Regions from separate parts of the Homo sapiens genome. Here region 2 is linked to region 1. Evidence: fine-mapped expression QTL. A gene starts in region 1. The other region holds a variant in brackets. All regions are shown on one strand. Distances are from middle to middle.

Region 1 (12,039 bases):
ATGTATACCGATGTAACAAAACTGCACATTCTGCACATGCATCCCAGAACTTAAAGTATTAAAAAAAAAAAAAAAAAAAAAAAAAAAAAAAGGCCGGGCGCGGTGGCTCACGCCTGTAATCCCAGCACTTTGGGAGGCTGAGGCAGGCGGATCATCTCAGGTCAGGAGTTCAAGACCAGCCTGGCCCAACATGGTGAAACCCCATCTGTACTAAAAATACAAAAAATTAGCCAGGCATGGTGGTGGGCACCTGTAATCCCAGCTACTCAGGAGGCTGAGGCATGAGAATCACTTGAACCCAGGAGGTGGAGGTTGCAGTAAGCCGAGATCGCGCCATTGCACTCCAGCCTGGGCGACAGAGCAAGACGTCGTCTTGAGAAAAAAGCAAACGTATATTATGGGATAATCAGATGTGAATATAGACTGGCAATCTGCTATTGAGAAAATATTTTCTATGCTTTTTTGGAGTGTGGTGACGGCAATGTGGCTGTCTTAAAAGGGAAGTGGCCAGGCGTGGGGGCTCACACCTGTAGTCCCAGCACTTCCAGGGGCCGAGGTGGGCAGATCACTTGAGCCCAAGAGTTTAAGACCAGCCTGGACAACACAGCAAAACCCTGTCTTTGCAAAAAAAAATACCAAATTTAGCTGGGAGTGGTGGTGCACACCTGTAGTGCCAGCTACTCAGGAGGCTAAGGTGGAAGGATCACTTCAGCCTGGGAGGTCAAGACTACAGTAAGCTGTGATTGCACCACTGCACTTTAGCCTAGGTGACAGAGTGAGACCCTGTCTCAATTTAAAAAAAAAGGGCCCAGGCACGGTGGCTCACACCTGTAATCCCAGAACCTTGGGAGGCAGAGGTGGGCAGAACATGAGGTCAGGAGTTCGAGACCAGCCTGGTCAACATAGTGAAACCCCGCCTCTACTAAAACTATATATATTAAAAAAAATTAGCCGGGCGTGGTGGTGGGCACCTGTAATCCTAGCTACTTGGGAGCCTGAGGCAGGAGAATCACTTGAACCTGGGAGGCAGAGGTTGCACAGAGCTGAGATCGTGCCACTGCACTCTGGCCTGGGCAACAGAGCGAGACTCTATCTCAAAAAAAAAAAAAAGGAACTCCCAATCTTTTAGAGGTATATAGTGAAATATTTATAGACAATAAAATATGAAATAATATAATATAAGGGATGGGCCAAAAAATAATCAGGGTGAGAGGTGGGGAAGTGACTAGGGCTTTACAGGAAACAAGATTCTCAGTTGGTAACTGTTTTTTAAAAAGTTATTATTATTTTTATTGATATATAATAATTGTACATATTTATGAGGTACATGTGATATTTTGATACATGCATATAATATGTAGTGGTCAAATTAGAATAATTGGGATATCTATTACTTCAAACATTTATCACTTCTTTGTGTTGGGAACATTTCAAATCCTTTCTTCTAGCTATTTTGAAATGTACAATACATTATTGTTAACTCGAATTAGGCTACTGTGCTATCTGACACTAGAACTTATTCCCTCTATCTAACTTGTGCCTTTGTGCCCTTTAACCAATCTCACTTCATCTCCCTCCACTTCCCAGCCTCTGGTAACTATCATTCTACACTCCAACTCCATATGATCAACTTTTTCAGTTCCCACATACGAGTGAGAACATGTGATATTTTTCTTTCTGTTCCTGGCTTATTTACTTAACATCAGTTGGCAGTTGTTGAAGCTGGGTGATGGGTATGTGAGTCCTTGGAACACTATTCTAATACCCTCTCCATGTTATATATGTTGGAAATTTTCAAAAAGTTAAAAGGGGGATCTAACAAATAGAACCATAAAGTATCTAAACTGTTGTTAAATAAACGGTAAAGTCCATAATACGTTAGAATTCTTTCATTTTTCAAGATGTCTACAAGAGAGCAGTACCTTGATTCACAAGCCCTTTGAGATATCATTGAAAGTAGGATGCAGAACTCAGAGCTGCTTGCCTTTTGCTACATTTCCCCCGTAATGCATTCCCCACTCTCCTTCCATCAAAACAGGCACTTACCTCTGACAAGCTGGGATATATTTCAAAGATGCATGCTGAATCCACTGCCCTCAAATGGCAGAGAGAGGATGCAAACACAGCCGGGCAATGCCAGCCATTTCGCAGCCTTCCTACTGTGTTTGAACTCAGAAACAGCTTTATCTCCATTTCTTGACCACATACCTCACAGCCTGCAGCTGTGCAGGGGGGCTGTAAAGAACTGTCCAGCCAATGCTTCACAATGACCGTATCACTCACTGACCCCTTTCCACTACTCCTCACATCAGTCTTTGAAACTGCCCCTAACACACCGGGTCACCTGGGTGACCTGTCAAGCTCTGTTTTTAACTGTTTCCTTTTCTTGAAAGTTCGAACTAACCAACTTCAAGTATTTAGAAACTTCCCAAGTCTACTGGATTGTAGCAAAAACCTGTTGGTAGACAGAAATGAAGTTCTTGAAAGGGTTTAATAACATTCAATTCCACTTGGGATACAGCCAACACTTACAACACCCATAGATTCACTATGCCTAATACCGAAATGTTATCTCACTCCAGCTGCAACCTCCAAGTCCAATAAACCTTCTTTAGCTACAAACGTTCTTAATTTGAGTGAGACAGGTTCAACCTGAAAAACTTAAAAGGTCAGGTTGTTTTTTTCTAGAAAAATAAATCTTCTCTAAAGCTTCTTTGCTTAAATCAACATTTCATAAAATAAAGCAGCTATTGCAATTCCTCCACGACTTGGACAATATAACTAGCTTTCTTGTCCACCAGCTTTCAGACCCACAGTTTTGTGAAATAAACCTGCTTTTCTGGAAAAAAAAAAAAAAAAAAAAAGGGCCAGGCACAGTGGCTCATGCCTGTAATCCCGGCACTATGGGAGGCCGAGGCGGGCGCATCACCTGAGGTCGGGAGTTCGAGACGAGCCTGACCAACATGGAGAAACCCCGTCTCTACTAAAAATACAAAATTAGCCGGACATGGTGGCGCATGCCTGTAGTCCCAGCTACTCGGGAGGCTGAGGCAGGAGAATCACTTGAACTCGGGAGGCGGATAGCGGTGAGCCGAGATCGCGCCATTGCACTCCAGCCTGGGCAACAACAGCATAACTCCGTCTCAAAAAAAAAAAAAAAAAACAAAATAAAACAAAAAAGCAAAAACAGAAGCCTCACCTAATCTGCCCATAAAACAAGACTAGTGAAAACGATGACTATGCACAAGAGTAAGCACCATTGTTTTTCGGCACCCCCTTTTCCATCGGGTGCACGCAGGCACGCGGACACACAAGCCTCTCCCCTGCCCCCGCGCCCCGCCTGCGCGGGGAATCTGCCACACGGTATGAACTGTGCTCTCAGCGGAGAAATACTCTGGCCCAGCAATTTATGTGTGTTTTGTTTGTTTTAAGTGGGAAGGAAAGGAAGAGAGTGGGGCGTGAAAATGGGAGATCAGTTTTAACTCAGATTTAATTCAATGGTTCGCGTTTCCTCCCATCTTTCTCTGCATCAAAATGCAGGTAGATCGGTGAAATTTCAAGTTTCTTGGGTCGTTAAATACCCCAATTTAAACGATGGAGGCTGGGAACTGGGGATATAAGGAGGAAACCTAGGGTTGGAAGGGCGGGCAGGGTTAAAGAGGTTCGGGAGCTCCGCAGATCTGAGCGAAGCATGCGAGGCTGCCGCGCCCGGGCAGCGGCTGCGTCTCGGGTTCTCGCCCTGCCCGCTGCCTCGGGTTTTTGCCAGTGACTGCGCCGTCTTGGCTGCCCACCCACACCTCGGGTTGGTCCCGACTTTAGGCTAGGCCATTCACTTCCGGTGACAAATCCCTCCCACCACCCCTAGAAATAATGTACCGCTTCTCCCACCGCTTTCCTAAGACCGACCGCCCCAGAGAGCCACGGAGCCCGGGGCTAGGGTCTCACCCCAGCGCGGCCGGCGACGCCCAGCTGCGGAGGGAGTGGCCGGGACCGAGCTCGGGGAGGGCAGGGAAGAAAGAGGAAGGGGGTGTGGATCTCACCTTCCCCCGCCCCCACCCCTCCGACTGCAGCAATTGGCCAAAAAAATAGTAATCCTTTTATGGACTCCCCCAGGGCCCCTCGAACCAGGTTGCAGTGAGGAACCCAGTCTCTCCCATCGCAGTGCCCCTTGCCTTCTCCTGCCCTAGTAACTGCCTGCGGGGATCCAGGAGCCCCCAGGCCGCGCCGAACTGCAGTGGATAGGGGGGAGGGGGGCGGTAAGGATGAGGGCTACGGGGAGGCAGAAATGGGTTGGGGGAAGGGGTGGTGGAAGGGAAAAGAAAAAACCGGAGGCATGCAAGCGGCTCCCCAGCCAGCTGTTCCAGCTGCTGCTTCCTCCGGCGCGGGCCAGGCGGTGCAATATTCCCCCCCGCTCCATCTTTCTCACCACTACCTGTCCCCCCAACCCACCACACGCACTCATCCCTCCCACCCACACCCCTAGTAGCGGATCTCCGGCCTGTAAGGGGGTAGTAGGGAGGAGCTGGGGGGAGGGGGAGGCCTGCGAGTTTCTAACCTTGTTCTTATAAACAAACCCACATGTGCAGCTGCCGCTGCTGCAACTCACCCCACAATCCCGGATATAAGTCCTGCCCCTTTAAGAGGAAAAAAAAGATTCCCCCGCCTGCCTCCCACCCCACCCATCCACAAGAACCTTTGTCTTCCCACCCCCATAGTCAGTCGGCCCCGCCCCATCTCCCCGCCCCCTCCGACGCAGAGGAACCAATAGGCGAAGAAAATAAGGCCGGGGATCTGACATCATCATGTTAGGCCAATCACCGGACGCGTTGGTGGGAGGCCTCACGGACAGCGCGCCCGGAGGAAGGAAGACAAGAGAGAGGAAGCTTGAAGCCAATATGGAGTCCGTCAGTTGCTCCGCTGCTGCTGTCAGGACCGGAGACATGGAGTCCCAGCGGGACCTGAGCCTGGTGCCTGAGCGGCTTCAGAGACGCGAACAAGAACGGCAGCTGGAAGTTGAAAGGCGGAAACAAAAGCGGCAGAACCAGGAGGTAGAGAAGGAGAACAGCCACTTTTTCGTCGCCACCTTTGTTCGGGAGCGAGCGGCCGTGGAAGAGCTTCTGGAGCGCGCGGAGTCGGTCGAGCGGCTGGAGGAGGCGGCCTCTCGGCTCCAGGGGCTGCAGAAACTAATCAACGACTCAGTTTTTTTCCTAGCCGCTTACGACCTGCGGCAGGGACAAGAGGCGCTGGCGCGGCTGCAGGCGGCCTTGGCCGAGCGGCGCCGGGGGCTGCAGCCCAAGAAGCGTTTCGCTTTCAAGACCCGGGGAAAGGATGCTGCTTCGTCTACCAAAGTAGACGCGGCTCCTGGCATCCCCCCGGCAGTTGAAAGCATACAGGACTCCCCGCTGCCCAAGAAGGCGGAAGGAGACCTCGGCCCCAGCTGGGTCTGCGGTTTCTCCAACCTGGAGTCCCAAGTCTTGGAGAAGAGAGCCAGCGAGTTGCACCAGCGCGACGTTCTTTTGACCGAACTGAGCAACTGCACGGTCAGACTGTATGGAAATCCCAACACCCTGCGGCTAACCAAGGCCCACAGCTGCAAGCTGCTCTGCGGTCCGGTGTCTACCTCTGTTTTCCTGGAGGACTGCAGTGACTGCGTGCTGGCAGTGGCCTGCCAACAGCTCCGCATACACAGTACGAAAGACACCCGCATCTTCCTGCAGGTGACCAGCAGGGCCATCGTGGAGGACTGCAGTGGGATCCAGTTCGCCCCTTACACCTGGAGCTACCCGGAGATCGACAAGGACTTCGAGAGCTCTGGTTTAGATAGGAGCAAAAATAACTGGAACGATGTTGACGATTTTAACTGGCTGGCCCGGGATATGGCCTCCCCAAACTGGAGTATTCTTCCTGAAGAGGAGCGAAATATCCAGTGGGACTAAGCAGTTGTCACTCTGTTCTTCACTCCTACCAAATACTTTCCACGTTGGACTTTCCCCCTTATTGGGTCTCGAAGTTTACTTATTGTCACACTGTGTATGTTTTCAGCATTTTAAGGCTAGAGATTGTAATGGGCTCCTACTTGTAATTTCCATTAAATTCGTAACAGGTATAACACTAAAGCATTTTTGCTATTTTCGTCATGCCTTTGAGACTGAGTCTTACTCCGTCCCCCAGCGTGGTGGCGCGCTGGGATTACAGGCGCGCGCCACCACGCGAACTTGTATTTTTAGTAGAGACGGGGTTTCGCCATGTTGTCCGGGCTGCTCTCGAACTCCTGACCTCAGGTGATCCACCCGCTTCAGCTTCCCAAAGTGCTGGCATTACAGGCGTGAGCCACCACGCCAGGGCTTTATTTATTTATTTTTACCACAATAGTTTGAAGCAGTAAGGGGGAAGGAGGGTGATTATATTGCTTTGTAATGGTTTGTGATACTTGAAACATCACGGTGCATAATAAAGTAGGTCTGCAGTAAATACATGGGTTTGTTTGGTGTGTGTGTGTGTGTGTGTGTTTTGTTTTTAAAGAGATGGGCTCTCCTTATGTTGCCCAGGCTGGTTTCGAACTCCTGACCTCAAGCAATTCTCCTGCCTCAGCCTCCCAAAACACTCGGATTATAGACAGTAACCAGCAGTGTCAGGGTATAGATACATATTTAATAAATTCCAGAGCTGAGCCCGGGGGCTCACGCCTGCAATCCCAGCACTTTGGGAGGCTGAGGTGGGCAGATCACTTGAGGTCAAGAGTTGGAGACCCGGTGCCAGGTGAAACCCCGTCTCTACTAAAAACACAAAAATTAGCCGGGCATGATAGTTCACACCTGTAGTCCCAGCTACTCAGGAGAACTGCTTGAACCTGGGAGACAGGTTGTCGTGAGCTGACATCACGCCACTGCACTCCAGCCTGTGTGGCAGAGTGAGACACTGTCTCAAAAACAAAAAACCATAGGTAATTCCTTTGTCCCTAGACATTCAGTTCCTTCGGAGAGCCATCACTCTTTACGTGTTTCTTTTTTTTTTTTTTTTTTGAGACAGAGTTTCGCTCTTGTTGCCCAGGCTGGAGTGCAGTGGCGTGATCTCAGCTCAGTGCAACCTCAGCGTCCCTGGTTCAAGTGACTCTCTTGCCTCAACCTCCCGAGCAGCTGGGATTACAGGAGCCCGCCACCATGCTCGGCTAATTTTTTGTATTTTTAATAGAGAATTTCACCATGTTGGCAAGACTGGTCTTGAACTCCTGACCTCGGCTGATCCACCTGCCTCAGCCTCCCAAAGTCCTGGGATTATAGGCGTGAGCCACTGTGCCCGGTCCTTTTTTTTTTTTTTTTCCTTTGTTTCTTTGAGACAGGGTCTGGGTGAAGGACCTTCTGGGCTCAAGATATCCTCCAACCTCAGCCTCCCAAGTAGCTGGGACTACAGGTGCACCCCATCACCCCCGGCTAATTTGTGTATTTTTTGTAGAGAGGGCTTCATCATGTTGCCCAGGCTGGTCTCGAACTCCTGAGCTCAAGCAATCTGTCCCCCGTGGTCTTCCAAGTGCTGGGTGGTGGTGCGTGTTTGTAATCCCAGCTACTCGGGATGCTGAGGCATGAGAATCCTTTGAACCTGGCAAGAAGAGGTAGCAGTGAGCCATTACTGTGCCATTGCATTTCCAGAGCAAGACTCTGTATAAAAAAAAAAAAAAGAAAAAAAAGAAAGGGGGTGGTGCCAGGCGCGGTGGCTCATCCCTGTAATCCCAGCACTTTGGGGGGCCAAGGCAGGTGGATCACCTGAGGTCAGGAGTTCGAGACCAGCCTGGCCAACAGGGTGAAACCTCGTCACTACTAAAAATACAAAAATTAGCCGGGCATGGTGGCACACACATGGAATCTCAGCTACTTGGGAGACTGAGGCAGGAGAATATCTTGAGCCCAAGAGGCAGAGGTTACAGTGTGCTGAGATTGTGGCGCTGCACTCCAGCCTGGGCGACAAGAGCAAAACTCCATCTCAAAAAAAAAAAGAAATTTTTGGGTCTTTGCCAGTTTGATGGTTACAAAATATTACCTTCCTCTACTAGTAATGGTAATCATCTCCTAACTCATCTCCCCATCTCCAATTTCTGAACTATTCTGCATACAGCTACTAAATTAGTTTTCTTAAAGTATGTCACTCCTGATCTAAAACCTTCTGAGATTCTTATTATCTGATAGACTTCCTGGCCTGGAAGACAAGCCCCTCCACCATCTGTTTCAGCCTACTGTTCTTACATGATGTTTTACTGTTTCATCACACACATTTCATGCACCAGCTAGTCTGAACTAATACCCATTAATCAAACACAATGTCAGGGCTCTGGCAGGAAACAGATGGCTTGCTCAAAATGGATACTTTGAGAAGAGCTTAATACAGGAGCTATTTACAAAGCTGTGGGCAGAGTATAAGAAAAGCAATTAGAGATGGTACAATATCTGTTACCATCCTTAGGGCTGAAGGGACAAAAATGTTACCTGAATGCAGAGAGAGATAGACAGTTATTGAGCTACCTGACAGGAGTTTCAGTCCTCAGTGGAGGGATGCTGCCAATCCATGGTGACCTGGCAGGGAGAGAGCCATGGGACTTAAACAATGTCATTCTCTTTTATTGGTGCCTCCCGTTGGTAGAGCCCAACTGGAAATTTCAGGGCAAAGAAGTCTGCTGCCGCAGTCCATATGAGTCAGCTCCCAGGATGTAGAACAGCGTGGAGAAAAATGAAGAATGGATCTGGAGGAGGAAATGGAAGACACTAAGGGCAGGCCAGCGCTGTGGCTCATGCCTGTAATCTCAGCACTTCGGGATTGCCTTGGGATTTGCCTTGGGAGGCCAAGGCAGGTGGATCACCTGAAGTCAGGAGTTTGAGACCAGCCTGGCCAACATGGTGAAATCCCGTTTCTACTAAAAATACAAAAATTAGCCGGGCATGGTGGCAGGCGCCTGTAATCCCAGCTACTCAGGAGGCTGAGGCAAGATAATCGCTTGAACCTGGGAGGAGGAGGGTACGGTGAGTCGAGACTGTACCACTGTACTCCAGCCTGAATGCCAGAGCGAAACTCCATCTCAAAAAATAAATATTCAGTGCAAATAGTTTTTGCCGTATTTCCTGGCCTTTTCTCGAGCAGTGCCCACACAGATTGGGTCCCCATGCACTTGCCAAAATTTCATACAAGACAAATGTCACTTCCTCTGGGAAATCTGGGATTTTCCTTAGTCTCTTTTGAAAATGAGGCATGGGCCAGGCTTGGTAGTTCATGCCTGTAATCTCAGCATTTTGGGAGGCCTTGGTGGGAAGATCACTTGAGCTTAGGGGTTCAAGACCAGCCTGGGTAACATAGGAAGACTCTGTCTCTACAAAAAATACAAAAATTAGCTAGGCATGGTGGCACACGCCTGTGGTCCCAGCTACTCAGGAGGCTGAGGCGGGATGATTGCTTGAACCTAGAGGTCAAGGCTACAGTGAACTGTGATTGTGCCACTGCACTCCAGCTTGGGCGACAGAGTGAGACCTTGTCTCAATAAAAAAAAAAAAATGAGGAGGCCAGGAGCGGTGGCTCACGCCTGTAATCTCAACACTTTGGGCGGCTGAGGTGGGCAGATCACTTGAGGTCAGGAGTTCGAGACCAGCCTGGCCAACTTGGTGAAACCCCGTGTCTAGTAAAAATAGAAAAATTAGCTGGGCATGGTGGTGTGCACCTATTATCCCAGCTACTCGGGAGGCTGAGGCCTGAGAATCACTTGAACCCAGGAGGCAGAGATTGCAGTAAGCCTAGATCACGCCACTGCACTCCAGCCTGGGTGGCAAAGCAAGACACTATCTCACAAAAAAAAAAAAAAAAAAAGGAAAAAGCTTAAAGAGAAACCAAGGAACGACCACTATGGGAAAGAACAGGGGAAACTTCTGGCCAATCAAAAAGTACTAAAGATTTACATAAAAGTTAGCTGTAATCTTTGAGGAGGGGAAATGAAGGAGGGAGGAGTAACTGCTTTTTCCCCAGCTTTGGTTACTGAAATTCTCCGGGGAGGGCCATTCACGCACATCTCATCAGAGATGGTAATTTCCAAGAAAGATGATTAAAAAGTTGGATGACTTTTAAGGTCCTTGAGCAGAGGAATGCTTATGGACATTACCAAGAACATTCCATAGAAGTTGCAGTTTAATAAACATTAGCAAATCCAGTTCATGCACAAATTTCTCCCAAGGAGCATTGACAGTTTAGCTTTTTTGTTGTTGTTGTTTTTTACAACAGGGTCTCACTCTGTTGTCTAGGCTGGAGTGCAGTGGTGCAATTATGGCTCACTGCAGCCTTGACCTCCCAGGCTCAAGCAATTATCCTACCTCAGCATCCTAAGTAGCCACCACACTTGGCTAATTTTTTTACTTTTTTTTGGAGAGCTGGGATGTCACCATGTTGCCCAGGCTGGTCTTGAACTCCTAGGCTCAAGGGATCCTCCCACCTTGGCCTCCCAAAGTGTTGAGGTTACAAGTGAGAACAAGCCAATTTAACTTTTTGACTGGGTACATGTTTAGTTTATGTTTGTTATTTATTTGTATTTTATTTTATTTTAATTTCTCTTTTTTTTTTTTTTTTTTGAGACGGAGTCTCGCTCTGTCGCCCAGACTGGAGTGCAGTGGCGCGATCTCGGCTCGCTGCAAGCTCCGCCTCCCGGGTTCACGCCATTCTCCTGCCTCACCCTCCCGAGTAGCTGGGACTACAGGCGCCCGCCACCACACCCAGCTAATTTTTTGTATTTTTAGTAGAGACGGGGTTTCACTACGTTAGCCAGGATGGTCTCGATCTCCTGACCTCATGATCCGCCCGCCTCGGCCTCCCAAAGTGCTGGGATTACAGGCGTGAGCCACCGTGGCTGGCCCACGCCCAGCTAATTTTTGTATTTTTAGTAGAGATGGGGTTTCACCATGTTGTCCGGGCTGGTCTCGAACTCCTGACCTCAGGTGATCCACCCACCTCTGTCTCCCAAAGTGCTGGGATTACAGGCATGAGCCACTGCGCCTGGCTGATTTTAGTTTCTCTTAATCTTCAATTTTGGTATGGTCATGGCATGAAATGTGTTTCCTGCCATGGAAACCCAAACTATAACATTACATCTCTGGAAACTATGGGCTAGACTTGACTTGGGTTCAATTGTGACTGACGTTAAAGAACCAACTGACTTCTTCAGTCCAATAACAGCTGTAAGACTGGGATACTGGGGCCGGGCGCAGTGGCTCACGCCTGTAATCTCAGCATTTTGGGAGGCTGAGGTGGGAGGATCACCTGAGGTCAGGAGTTCGAGACCAGCCTGGCCAACATGGCGAAACCCCATCTCTACTAAAAATACAAAAATTAGCCGGGCGTGGTGCATGCCTGTAATCCTGGCTACTCAGGAGGCTGAGGCAGCAGAATCATGTGAACCTGGGAGGCAGATGTTGTAGTGAGCTGAGATCGTGACACTGCACTGCAGCATGGGTGACAGAGCAAAACTCTGTCTCAAGGGAAAAAAGAAAAAAGAAGAAAAAACTGGGATATGTCCCCAGGGGCCTTAATAAAAAGTACTGGATGGGGCAGTAGCTCACCCCTGTAATGCCAGCACTTTGGGAGACTGAGGTAGGAGGATCACTTGAGCCCAGGAGTTAGAGACCAGCCTGGGCAACATGAGACCCTATCTCTAACACAAAATTAAAAAATTAGCCAGGCATGGTGGTGCATATCTGTGGTCCCAGCTACTCAGGGGGCTGAAGTAGGAGGATTTTTAAATTTTTAAATTTTTAATTTTTGTGGATAAGTAGTAGGTGTATAAATTTATGGGTTATTTGATACAATGAGTAATAGTAATGCAATGAGTAATAGTCACATCAGAGTAAATGGGGTGTCCATCCCCTCAAACATTTATCCTTTGTTACAAACAATCCAATGATACTCTTTTAGTTATTTTAAAATGTACAATTAAATTATTTTTGACTATAGTCACCTAGTTGTGCTAACAAATACTAGGTCTGATTCATTTTATTTTTATTTTTTCAGACAGGGTCTCGC
Region 2 (12,039 bases), 26 kb before region 1:
AAAATTTCTCTCACCTAAGTTTCCTCATCTGTAAAATGGAGATAGTAATAACCTATATCTCAGGTTGGTTGGAGGAGAGTTCAGTAATATTAAGTATATAAAACCTTTGCTTTGGCCAGGTACGGTGGCTCATGCCTGTAATCCTAACACTTTGGGAGGCTGAGGCAGGAGGGTCGCTTGAGCCCAGGAGTTTGAGACCAGCCTGGGCAACATGGTCAGATCCCATTTCTACAAAAAATACAAAAATTAGCTGGGCATGGTGGCATGTGCCTGTGGTCCCAGCTACTTGGGAGGCTGGGGTGGGAGGATCACTTGAGTCTGGGAGGTTGAGTCTGTAGTGAGCCATGATCAAGCCACTGCACTCCAGCCTGGGCGACAGAGCAAGACCCTGTCTCAAAAATAAAAAAATAATAATAAAAATAAGGGCCGGGCTCAGTGGCTCATGCCTGTAATCCCAGCACTTTGGGAGGCCAAGATAGAAGGATCACAATGTCAGGAGTTCAAGACCAGCCTGGCCAAGAGACCAGCCTGGTCAATATGGTGAAACCCCATCTCTACTAAAAATACAAGAATTAGCCAGGTGTGGTGGCGGGTGCCTGTAATCCCAGCTACTCGGGAGGCTGAGGCAGGAGAATTGCTTGAATCCAGGAAGCAGAGGTTGCAGTGAGCTGAGATTGCACCATTGCACTCCAGCCTGGGTGACAGAGAAAGACTCTGACTCAAAATAAATAAATAAATAAAATAAAAAACCTTTGCTTCAGTGTCCCATATATAGTATTGAATAACAGTTGCCATTATTGTTGTGGTTGTTGTTGTTATTAAAAGTACCGTGGAATTATTTTCAAAGCAATGATAAGCAATTTATTGGAGTGATTACAAATGTTTTCAATACCTTGCCTACATTATTTTATTCAATATATGAATTTAAACACTTCACATCATCCTTGTAGAGGACTAAAGCTATTTGTCTCTATATTAAATGACATGTTTCAAGCTGGTTATTTTCCTTGACAGACTTAAAAAAAATCTGAACTCCTACAAGCTTTCAGTACAAGGATAAGGAATTAATACAATACAGCAGAGCTGTTAATAATAAAAAAAAAGCATTCAGCACTCCCACTGGCCTTCCTGTCTTACCCATGTAGACTGTTTCCCCATAGAATATGTTGAGGGGAGGACAGCCATCAGGTTAGGGGGGCACCACATGCTGTTGGAAGGCATGCCCAGGATGTGCCATTCACTGGCTCCCAGGTCCCCCTGGTATTCTATCAGAACTCTTTAACTCTCCTAAATAGAGCATTCCTTCTATTCCACCTGCTCAGGAGGATGGGGGAGTGGAGAGGAAGTGGAATGGAGGTCACATAATCAGGCTTTAAGGTGCTACCACAAAGCACACTTGGAGCTTAGTGAGAAAGTCAGTCTCTAAGATAGAACACCCATGTAAAGGGACTTGCCCAATAAATGTCAGTGTGCTTTCTGAAAATGAAACTACTAAGAGGTAAAACATCTGAAGAAGGAACTACTCTGGCCGGGCGCAGTGGCTCACGCCTGTGATCCCAGCACTTTGGGAAGCTGAAGCGGGCGGATCACCTGAGGTCAGGATTGTTCAAGACCAGCCTGGCCAACATGGTGAAACCCTGTCTCTACCAAAAATACAAAATTTAGCTGGGTGTGGTGGCATGCACCTGTAATCCCAACTACTTGAGAGGCTGAGACAGGAGAATCGCTTGAACCTGGGAGGCGGAGGTTGCAGTTAGTTGAGATGGCGCCACTGCACTCCAGCCTGGGCAACAAGAGCGAAACTCTGTCTCAAAAAAAAAAAGGAACCACTCTGAAAAAGATGACTCATAAATATGAGTGGAAGACAAGGAAATAAGTATGTACTAAGCAGGCACAAAGAAATATCCTTGACAATAAAGAAAAAAAAAAACTACGGGAGTGGAGACACTGTGTGACCCTCACAAGTATTCTGATCACTAAAGAGCCACATTCTTACTTGAGCACTTTTTAGAGCCTGATTAAATACCCTTAGACCATATAATTCTTTCTTTCCTAAATCTTCCAATTACTAGTTCCATTTCCCAGGGACCCTAATACTGTAAAAGTGACACCCTGTGCAAAGGTACTCTTATACTCCAAATGTTTATATATCTCTCTCACTATAAATCATACAATCAACTACTAGTTAGGTGTATTTATCAATCCTGAGTCAGGTCTAAGACAATCAGGAGGATGTTCAGAGATTGGCAGTCAGAGCAAAGGGCACACTGATGCTCTGAAAGGATATTTCGCACGCGGCCTGGTGAAAATGCGATGAGTTACTCCTGCCCCACCACATGCAAGCACCAAAACTCAAGTAATCATCTTCCCTTCTGAATTTGCTCTTCCTCTCTAGTCTCTATGCATGTTTGTAACACCCACCTTTCCCCTAGACCAACCCCTGGATACTTTTCATTTGTCTATGATTCCTCCTCATTCTCCCTCAAACCATGGAGCTGTTGGAGCTCAGAAAAATGATAGCTTGAAAGATGGCACCCTGATATGCTGAACTAAAGAATGGGCCTCAAGGTCTCTCTGACCTCTCCTCCTCCAAACCCCTATCTTTTCAGTCCTCCGTCTCTCTCAAAAGCACAGGATGTTCTCTGAAGTTTCCTTAACTACTGGACCCCAAAAGAGAAACAGAATTGCCTTAGTTCTCCTCTCTGAAATCTCATTATTTGTCACAGAAAAGACTGAGAAATGCAATCACATCTGGACGGGTTTTTTCACAAGATAATGTCTGCCTCTCACTCAAATTCCAAAACAATCATTTACAAAATAATTTCTGTCCCCTGAACCATTTATTCTTCTTAAAAATCATTTGCTACCCTTCAAAATTGCTCTGATCGCTTAAGCCCAGGAGGTCAAAGCTGCAATGGGCCATCATCCCCAAAAACAGGCTGGCCAGCTGGGCGTGGTGGCTCACGCCTGTAATCCCAGCACTTTTGGGAAGCCGAGGCGGATGGGTCACCTGAGGTCAGGAGTTTGAGACCAGCCTGGCCAACATGAAGAAACCCTGTCTCTACTAAAAATACAAAAATTAGCTGGGCGTGGCGGTGGGCGCCTGTAATCCCAGCTACTCGGGATGCTGAGGCATGAGAATCGCTTGAACCCAGGAGGCAGAGGTTGCAGTGAGCTGAGATTGTGCCATTGCACCCTAGCCTGGGTGACAGAGCGAGACTCCGTCTCACACACACAAAAAAAGGCTGGCCAAGGTGGCTCTTGCCTATAATCCCAGTACTTTAGGAGGCCTAGGCTAGAGAACTGCTTGAGCCCAGAAGTTCGAGACCAGCCTGGGCAACATGGCGATGCTTTGTATTTTTTTAATTTTTTTTTTTAATTGCAGCCAGGTGCAGTGGCTCACGACTGTAATCCCAGCACTTTGGGAGGCTGAGGTGGGTGGATCACCTGAGGTCAGGAGTTCAAGACCACCCTGGCCAAAATGGCGAAACCTTGTCTCTACAAAAATACAAAAATTAGCTGGGCATGATGGCGGGTGCCTGTAATCCCAGCTACTCAGGAGGCTGAGGCGGAAGAATCCCTTGAACCCAGGAGGCAGAAGTTGCAGTGAGCCGAGATCGTGCCATTGCACTCCAGCCCGGGCGACAGAGCAAGACTCCGTCTCAAAAAAAAAAAAAAATTGCTCCACTCCCCATCTCCCCTTCTTCTGTGAAGAAGGGTACTTAGGCACCTGGACCTCATTGGGTTATTGGGTAATCATTCTCCTGCTATTCCCCCATGCTATACATGTTAAATATTAAATAAATTGTTATGTCTTTTCTCCTCTTAATCTGTCTACTGCCAGTTCATTTTCAGCAAACTTTCACAGGGCGGAGGTGAAGCTTTCCCTTGGTCCCTACAAAACTCACTTCCAAAATCTCCCTCGAATACCATCCTCCCTCAATGGTAATTCTTTGCCAATTACCATCACCTGAATTCAGGTCCGCCTATTGCTTGGCCTCCCATTGATCTCCTATCCAAATTGCTACAAAGATCATCTTTCTAGATTCTAGAGCTGGTTGTGTCACACCTTCATCAGCACCTCACTGCCTCACTGCCCAGGGATGTTTATTGCAAGTACAGATTCCCAAACCCAAATCCATAACCAGAGAATGGGAATTTCTAGGGCAAGCTGAGAAGTGGTATATGTACTTTCAAGTGGCTCGGTAATTGGCTCCACCTGCCTCCCCAGGCACATCTCGAGCCAGTCCTCTCCTAGTACCCTGTGGTCCCTTTACAGAGAATACCCTGCCCCTGAACAAACAGATCCAGATTTGGACATATCCTTTCCCATCTGCCTGGAATTCCCTTTTCCTGTGGCACAAGTCCACCATTCTTCAAGGCCCAGCTCCAATGCCACCTCCTCTGGGAAGCCTTCTCCCGTCGCCTAACTCAGTGGCTTTCAAACATCTTTGCTTGAGACTCAATCCCAAGAAACACATTTCACATTGTAATTCAGTAGATATATAATTGAAACAAAGGTTTTTGAAAAAAAAATATCTAAACCTACTATGGAGGATGCATCTTGATGTATTTCATTCTATATTGTCTTTATTTTTTCAAATGCTGTTAGGCACTTGGTAAAGGACTTCATGATTCACTAATGGAGGTGACCCCATTTGAAAAACATTGCTTAAAATGAGTGAGTCCCTTCTCTATGCACTCTATACACGCCTCTATTACCCACTGATCACTTTACAATAATGATTTGTTTACAGTCTGCCTTCATCCTCCTCCTCCCCTCCCCAGACAGGCACATACCACAACCAAATCAGCATATCTTGTGACAGTTCCACAGCTGCTGACAAATGCAGAAATGCGAATATTGGAGAATAAATACTTTAATTGCTTTTGCTCGTGTCTAATTTTTTTTTCTTTTCTGATTACAATTCACAGCATAGTCTATTGAAGACTATGCTATTGGAGACTCAGCCTCCCAAGAGGCTGAGCCTGGGAATTATACTAGCTTCAACCCTTCAGTTAACAGCAATTTTTAAAAACAGCCATTGTATCTCAGTACAATTTAACCAAGGTGTTAATTATTCTCTCCCTCAAAAACAAAAA[C/AC]CACATACACGAAAAACCATCAGAAAATATTTTGTCGGGTTGCTAGCCAAGAGAGTGCAAATGTGGGCAAACAAATCTCTTACTTAGATACTTGCAAGCAAATAGTCAAAAACCTCAAAACCCTCCTTCCCTACCACTTCAGACAGGACCCCCCCACCACCCCCCGCCACCCCCACAGGGGTGGGGATGCAGATATAGAGGCCTTTCTATCTGCGCAGCCTGAAGCTCAATTTCTCACTAGGCGGTCCCTAACAACACAAACAAATGAGAAAAGTAGAAAAAACAAAAAGAAACCAGAGCAGCTAAAAAGCATCACGTAATGAAGCCGGGCCGCAAGTTCCGGTGCGAATTGTACCTGTGACGGATGCACGGGCGCAGCGGCGGCCCGCAGGGGGAGGGGTCCTCTTTCTGCAGCACGTGGCGCCAACGACAGGAAACCTGCCTGCAACACCCGCCAACCCTGTACACCGCTCATTTGCAGCATCGTCATTTGTGTGATGCTAATTTGCTCCATGTCCTTGTAAACGTTCTTACAGAGATAAATGAAAATCTACTGCAGGCTTGGGGTGGCCCTGGGCAGGCTAGGAGAGAAGGAGGGACCCAGCAGTCCCCAGGTGTCAGTGAAAAGCTCTGGGAGTCGGAGGACAGAGTAGGCAATCCTGTTCAGAGAGGGGAGGGCCGGGTGCGGTGGCTCACGCCTGTAATCCCAGCACTTTGTAAGGCCGAGGCAGGCGGATCACTTGAGGTCAGGAGTTCGTGGCCAACGTGGTGAAACCCCGTCTCTACTAAAAATACAAAAATTAGCGGGGCGTGGTGGCGGGCACCTGGAATCCCAGCTACACGGTAGGCTGAGGCAGGAGAATCACTTGAACTCGGGAGGTGGAGGCTACAGTGAGTGGAAATTGCGCCACTGCACTCCAGACCGAAAAAAACAAAAACACTGACCGGGTGGGGTGGCTCATGCCTGTAAACCCAGCACTTTGGGAGGCCGAGGCGGGTGGATCACCTGAGGTCAGGAGTTCGAGACCAGCCTGGCCAACATGGTGAAACCCCGTCTGTACTAAAAATACAAAAAATTAGCTGGGTATGGTGGCAGGTGCCTGTAATCCCAGCTACTCTGGAGGCTGAGGGAGAAGAATCGCTTGAACCTGGGAGGTGGAGGTTGCAGTGAGCTGAGATTGCGCCACTGCACTCCAGTCTGGGCAATATGAGCAAGGCTCCGTCTCAAAAAAAAAAAAAAAAAAATAATAATAATAATAAAATTAGCCGGGCATGGTGGCACGTGCCTGTAATCCCAGCTACTCGGGAAGCTGAGGCATGAGGATCGCTTGAACCCGAGAGGCGAAGGTTGCAGTGAGCCGAGATCACGCCTCTGCACTCCAGCCTGGGTGACAGAGCAAGACCCTGTCTTAAAAAACAAAAGAAAACAAAAAACTAAGAGAGGGAAGAACAGGAGATACTTTAAAGCTGGGTTTTAAAGAATGACTAAGAGTTCTCCAAATCACATGGGGAAAGGCAGAAGAGAGCTCCTGGTAGAGGAACCTAAGAGAGTGTATTTGGCAAAGTCCTTAAATATAAATGAGGGGGACAGGCAGATGATGAGGGGCTTTGCAGATCATGGAAGGGTGTGGATGATCCGTAGGCCGCTGCTTTCCACACTGCAGGTCACAATGCAGTAGGCTGTGCAAGTCATGAGACTGTGACCAGCTTTTATAAAAAATGAAAGAACCTAGATCAGAAGATACCAGAATACATACAAGCAGTAAGGGTGTAAACTTGGGAAATCTGTTTCAGTTATAAATGTGTCTGTGTATGTATGTACTTGTTTGTAATATAAGTGTATTTCTTACTGTGGTGGTGATCTTTAAGTTTTTGAACAAAAAAAATTCTAGACAAACAGGACACAATAAGAGAATGCTATGAACAGATTTGAATTCCATGAGGATAAATGTGGTAGCAGTATGGAAGGTCGGTGGGCAGAGGTGAGGGCTCCGAGCACACATGGTATTGTGTTTGTGTGAGGCTTCTCCAGCCCAGACAGTGAGCTTGATGCTCTAGGACAGACTCTGTGTCATGTAGCTCCCAGTCCCGGCACTTGGCACACAGTAGGCACTAAAGGAATGTTTCTTGACCAGATATGGTAACTAACTTCCAAGATGGCCCCTAGCAAGCCTCACCTCCTGGTATTCTCACCTTTGTGCATCCTCCCTCCTACTGTGTACCAGGGTTGGTTTGGGTGACCAATAGGATAGGGCAGAAGCTTCCCATCTTGGGTGCTCTCTGGATCGCTCACTCTGGGAGAAGCTGGCTGCCATGTCATGAGGACACTCAGAGAGTCTATGGACAGACCCATGTGGTGAGGAACTGAAGTCTCCAGCCAATAGCTAATAGCTTAGGCATCCTGCTGGTAGCCAGACCGCCTCACGGGTGAGCTTGGAAACAGATCATCCCCAGCCTACCCTTCACAGTACTGCAGCCCCAGGGGCCAGCTTAACTATAAACTCATGAGAGACCCTGAGACAAAAACACTCAACTAAGCTCTTCTTGCATTCCTGACCCACAGAACTGTGACGTAATAAATGCTTGCTGTTTTAAGCTGCTACATTTTAGGGTGCCTTGTTATATAGTCATAGACAACCAATACACTGGGTTAACATGAAGTCCAGAAACGTTTAAAATATATTAGAGTTACCCATTCTTTACTACTATTTTGTTTTTTCTCAAAGCATCTGTCACATCACATCTTTAGCCTGCTTAGAGAACGACATCTGACCCAACCTGGGCCATTAGGATCCTCTCTTCTGGGTATTAGCACTTGGGACACAGAGACTGGGTCAGCTGTGAGGAGCAGACTACAAGGCTAGAAAGCCTAGGGGGCAATGCCACCATTTTGGAGAAGTGGTAATGGGGCCCATGTAAGTGCACGGCCTCAGAAGGACCAGTGATTGGGGTAGAGGGGAAGAAAGCAGATTCTCACTGGGCATGGAGGGGAGAAGGGAGGAGAAAGTGCCTGATTGATATCTGAGTCCCCTGAGGCCTGGCTGGCTTTCTAGCTTTGGAGTTGGAATATTTCCTTTCCTTACGATTATTCCTCATTCTACCTGCTAATCTGAGCAAGCTCACTTTCTTGCAAACCAAAGATCCTGGAATATGCTGGCCAGCTTCTGTCCAGTGCTGGCCAGAGAAGCAGCTCCTCCTTTTGTGGCAGGCCAAGTATCTCTCCAGAGAGAACAACAACCCACCAAAGATTAAGCTTTAGTATTACTGCTATGTAAAAACTACTATCGATGGGGTAAAAGGTCCTCTCAGACCATCCAACTCCTTTTGCCTTCACTTCACTTTCAGCCAGTAATCTTTTGATTATTAATGGACTTCACTTTTAAAAGTAGTGTTCCGGCCAGCTGACCTAATCATTCCAGTGGTTGGTAAGTTCATGCCCATTATAAATTCACAGATTGGCTTTCGAAGACAAATCATTCTTGAGTAACCTCAATTTCATTTCCACTGCTCTCAGTCAAGCCCTGTCATTTATCCAGTGAAACATTACAATAGCCTCCCAATGGCACTTCCCCTACTCCAATCCATTCTCTTCACCTTCTTCTAAAACACAAATCTGATGCCTCACTCCCTGCTCTAAACCATCTGACAGGTCCCCAAGCACCCTCAGAATGACTGGCATCTCCAGCCCCATCTTCCACCACGCCTCCTCCATGCTGCTCCAGACCACTCTCCACTCTTGCCATGCGGTGTTATTCCCAAGTTTCTCAATTGGTGTCCACCCAGCTCTGCCTGTGTTCTTCCTGTTGCCTGGTGTTCCTTTCCTATGGACACCTCCCCTGCCTTCCCACTTTTCCCACCCTCCTGTTTCCTCTGTACTTCCATAGAACTTCCTTCCTCCTTGATAACACACAGTATGGTCAGCTTGACTAATAATTACTTGTCCTGTCTGTCCCTGGATTGTAAGCCTCAAGGAGATGAAGACTACACTTTGTTCATTTTTATACTTCCCTTCTCCCCAGGGCCAACTACAGTAGCTTGCATCAATATGTTAAGCTAACATTTCTTGCGTCTTTACCATATCAAGCCACCTGGCTGGTGTTGCAGGTAGCAGACACTCAACAAACACCCACTGGATTAAAGTCAGTCAGGGTGGCATGGACAAGTGTTCCCTGGACCTAATGATGTTCAGATGAGATGCCCATCTATCATCTGTGTTTGCAGAGCTGAGACAGCAGAGTTAGACTCATGGTGGCATCCATGGTGAGGCAATGAATGAATCTCAGCCTAGCCTTTTACAAAAAAACTTTTACATGAGGCATAATTTCTCATTTAAAATTAAATGACATTAATTAATAATTAAATGACATAAATAGAAAACAAAAAAAAGCACTGGAATTAATAAGCAAACAGACAAATCCACACACATACAACACAGTTTTTCCTCTTTTTAAACAATTAATTAAGTTGACATTCCTCTCTCCTCTTTTCTTTCTCTTTCTTTCTTTGAGACAGAGGCTTAACTCTGTCGCCCAGGCTGGAGTGCAGTGGCACAATCTTGGCTCACTACAACCTCTGCCTCCCAGGTTCAATCTATTCTTCTTCTTTTTTTTTTTTTTTTGAGATGGAGTCTCACTCTGTTGCCCAGGCTGGAGTACAGTGGCGCCATCTCAGCTCACTGCAAGCTCCGCCTTCCGGGTTCACGCCATTCTCCTGCCTCAGCCTCGCGAGTAGCTGGGACTACAGACGCCTGCCACCACGCCCGGCTAATTTTTTGTATTTTTAGTAGAGACGAGGTTTCACTGTGTTAGCCAGGATGGTCTCGATCTCCTGACCTCATGATCCGCCCGCCTTGGCCTCCCAAAGTGCTGGGATTACAGGTGTGAGCCACGGCACCCGGCACAATCAATTCTTCTGTTTCAGACTCCCGAGTAGCTCGGATTACTGGTGCTCACCACCACACCCAGCTAATTTTTGTATTTTTAGCAGAGATGGGGTTTCACCATGTTGGCCAGGCTGGTCTCAAACTGCTAACCTCAAGTGATCCACCCGCTCGGCCTCCCAAAGTGCTATTACAGGCGTGACCCACTGTGCCAGGCCTCTTTCTCTTTCTACAATTGCAATTATGACTCACAAGCACATTACAGGATGCTAAGTTTAGATGAACAAATATTAGAGAATGGCATGGGAGTGGATTCCCCAGTTAGCCAGTTTGCGTGTTTCAGAGCTAAGGCATGTGGGTCAATCCACAGGTGACTTTATTGTAGTTCTTTCAAAAGAGTCAGCATCTACACATGAAGGTAGAAGCAGAATCTGGTCCTGATTTTCCCACTGACGATCCTTGTCCTGGCTCCAACTCTTCATCTCTCTCTCTTACCCCCAAGATTTGTGGAAAAGCCCCAGCTCTGGGCAAACTTGAGACTGATGACACAATCCTAAAGAACTTGACTACTCAGATAATATCAGAGAACTTTACAAAGTCACTCCTAAAGCAATTGATGAAAAAGTACCGGAAGGCTGGGCATGGTGGCTCACATCTGCATTCCCAGCACTTTGGGAAGCTAAGGTGGATGGATAGCTTGAGCCCAGGAGTTCGAGACCAGCCTGGGCAAAATCCTGTCTCTACCAGAAATACAAAAATTAGCCAGTCTTATAACCTGGTCTCAAAAGAAATAAATAGAAAACAAAAACAAAAAGCACTGGAATTAGTAGCAAACAAACAAATCCCCACATATACAATATAGTTTTTCCTCTTTTTAAACGATTTCTACACACTAAGTTTCTATCTTCCACAGGCTATATAATCAATCATTATATATTGCCTCAAATCAATGCTCACCCCTACAGGTTCTTAAAAAAAAAGCAGCAAATAATATTGCCTTGATCCCTGACAGCCTGTAGAGCTACCAACAAGAGAGCACCAGGAATCGCCCACTTGTACGATACATGAAGTCCTACAGTGGCTCTGGCTTTCTGGGGAACTCACACCTTTATCAAGAGCCTATATTTTCCTTGGCTTATGTTTGCAACACACATTTCACTCAAGCTTCACCTTTCACTTCATCATCATTCTTCAGATGAAAAGAGTTTCTATTACCTGAAGGGAATTACTCTGTGAAGACAAAGAACAGAAAAAAATAGCATGCATGCCATGTTTAAACACATACATGGAGCAGGGGGCGTGGCTTGCTCACTAGCTCAATGACTGTCTCCCTCCCCACAAGCCTCCTAGGATGTACTTGAATTTGCGCCTCAGCAAATTTCAAATTACTACATGTCATGGACCACTGGGATCTCTCCCAGAGAGAACTCCCAATTGTCAGAGCTACAAATCCCTGGCAACATAGCCCTGTTACGCATTCACATTCCTAAATGTTTCCTGCCATTATTCCGTCCTCCAAATCAGCCTCTTTCACTGTTTAGCAATAATAATGCAACTTTGTAATAGTTACTTTGTAAAAGCAAACTTTCATTATTATTACCAACTACAGAAGGGAAAAGTCTCTGCAGCACAAATAGGTTCTCACTTGACAAGACATTTCACAGGAGTTGGCTCAGCATGCATAGTTCCTTATTGCTACAGCGTTGTAATGACACAAAGACAGCTCTTTATCCAATTCAACAAACACTTCTGAGCCCCATAAAGTGCAAGGCATCATTTATTCACAAAACGTTTTTCTAACATTTTTAAAACATAACCTAGGCCGGGCGTGGTCGCTCATGCCTGTAATCCCAGCACTTTGGGAGGTTGAGGCGGGTGGATCACAAGGTCAGGAGATCAAGACCATCCTGGCTAATACGGTAAAATCCCGTCTCTACTAAAAATACAAAAACTTAGCCAGGCGTGGTGGCACACGCCTGTAGTACCAGTTACTCGGGAGGCTGAGGCAGGAGAATGGCATGAACCCGGGAGGCAGAGCTTGCAAGTGAGCTGAGATC

What was found.
Region 2: its variant is fine-mapped to the expression of TBCC in whole blood (TOPMed, PIP above 0.99). The same link has a PIP of 0.9 or more in T cells and blood mononuclear cells.

The regions. Positions count from the first base shown.
Region 1 is chr6:42,738,930-42,750,968 of GRCh38, reverse strand. It overlaps TBCC (tubulin folding cofactor C), which reads left to right and starts at 4,866. Exons shown (of 1, transcript NM_003192.3): 1 at 4,866-6,471. The coding sequence starts at 4,896. The coding sequence ends at 5,936. It also overlaps a transcript of BICRAL not described here. RefSeq lists enhancers at 3,374-3,423, 3,810-4,773, 4,838-5,047, 5,078-5,157, 5,218-5,377 and a silencer at 3,808-3,867.
Region 2 is chr6:42,764,722-42,776,760 of GRCh38, reverse strand. It overlaps a transcript of BICRAL not described here. Among named protein-coding and RNA genes, the nearest start is that of BICRAL, 11 kb to the left of the region's middle. RefSeq lists an enhancer at 5,263-5,462 and a silencer at 5,933-5,982. The variant C/AC (reference allele first, on the strand shown) is at 5,104.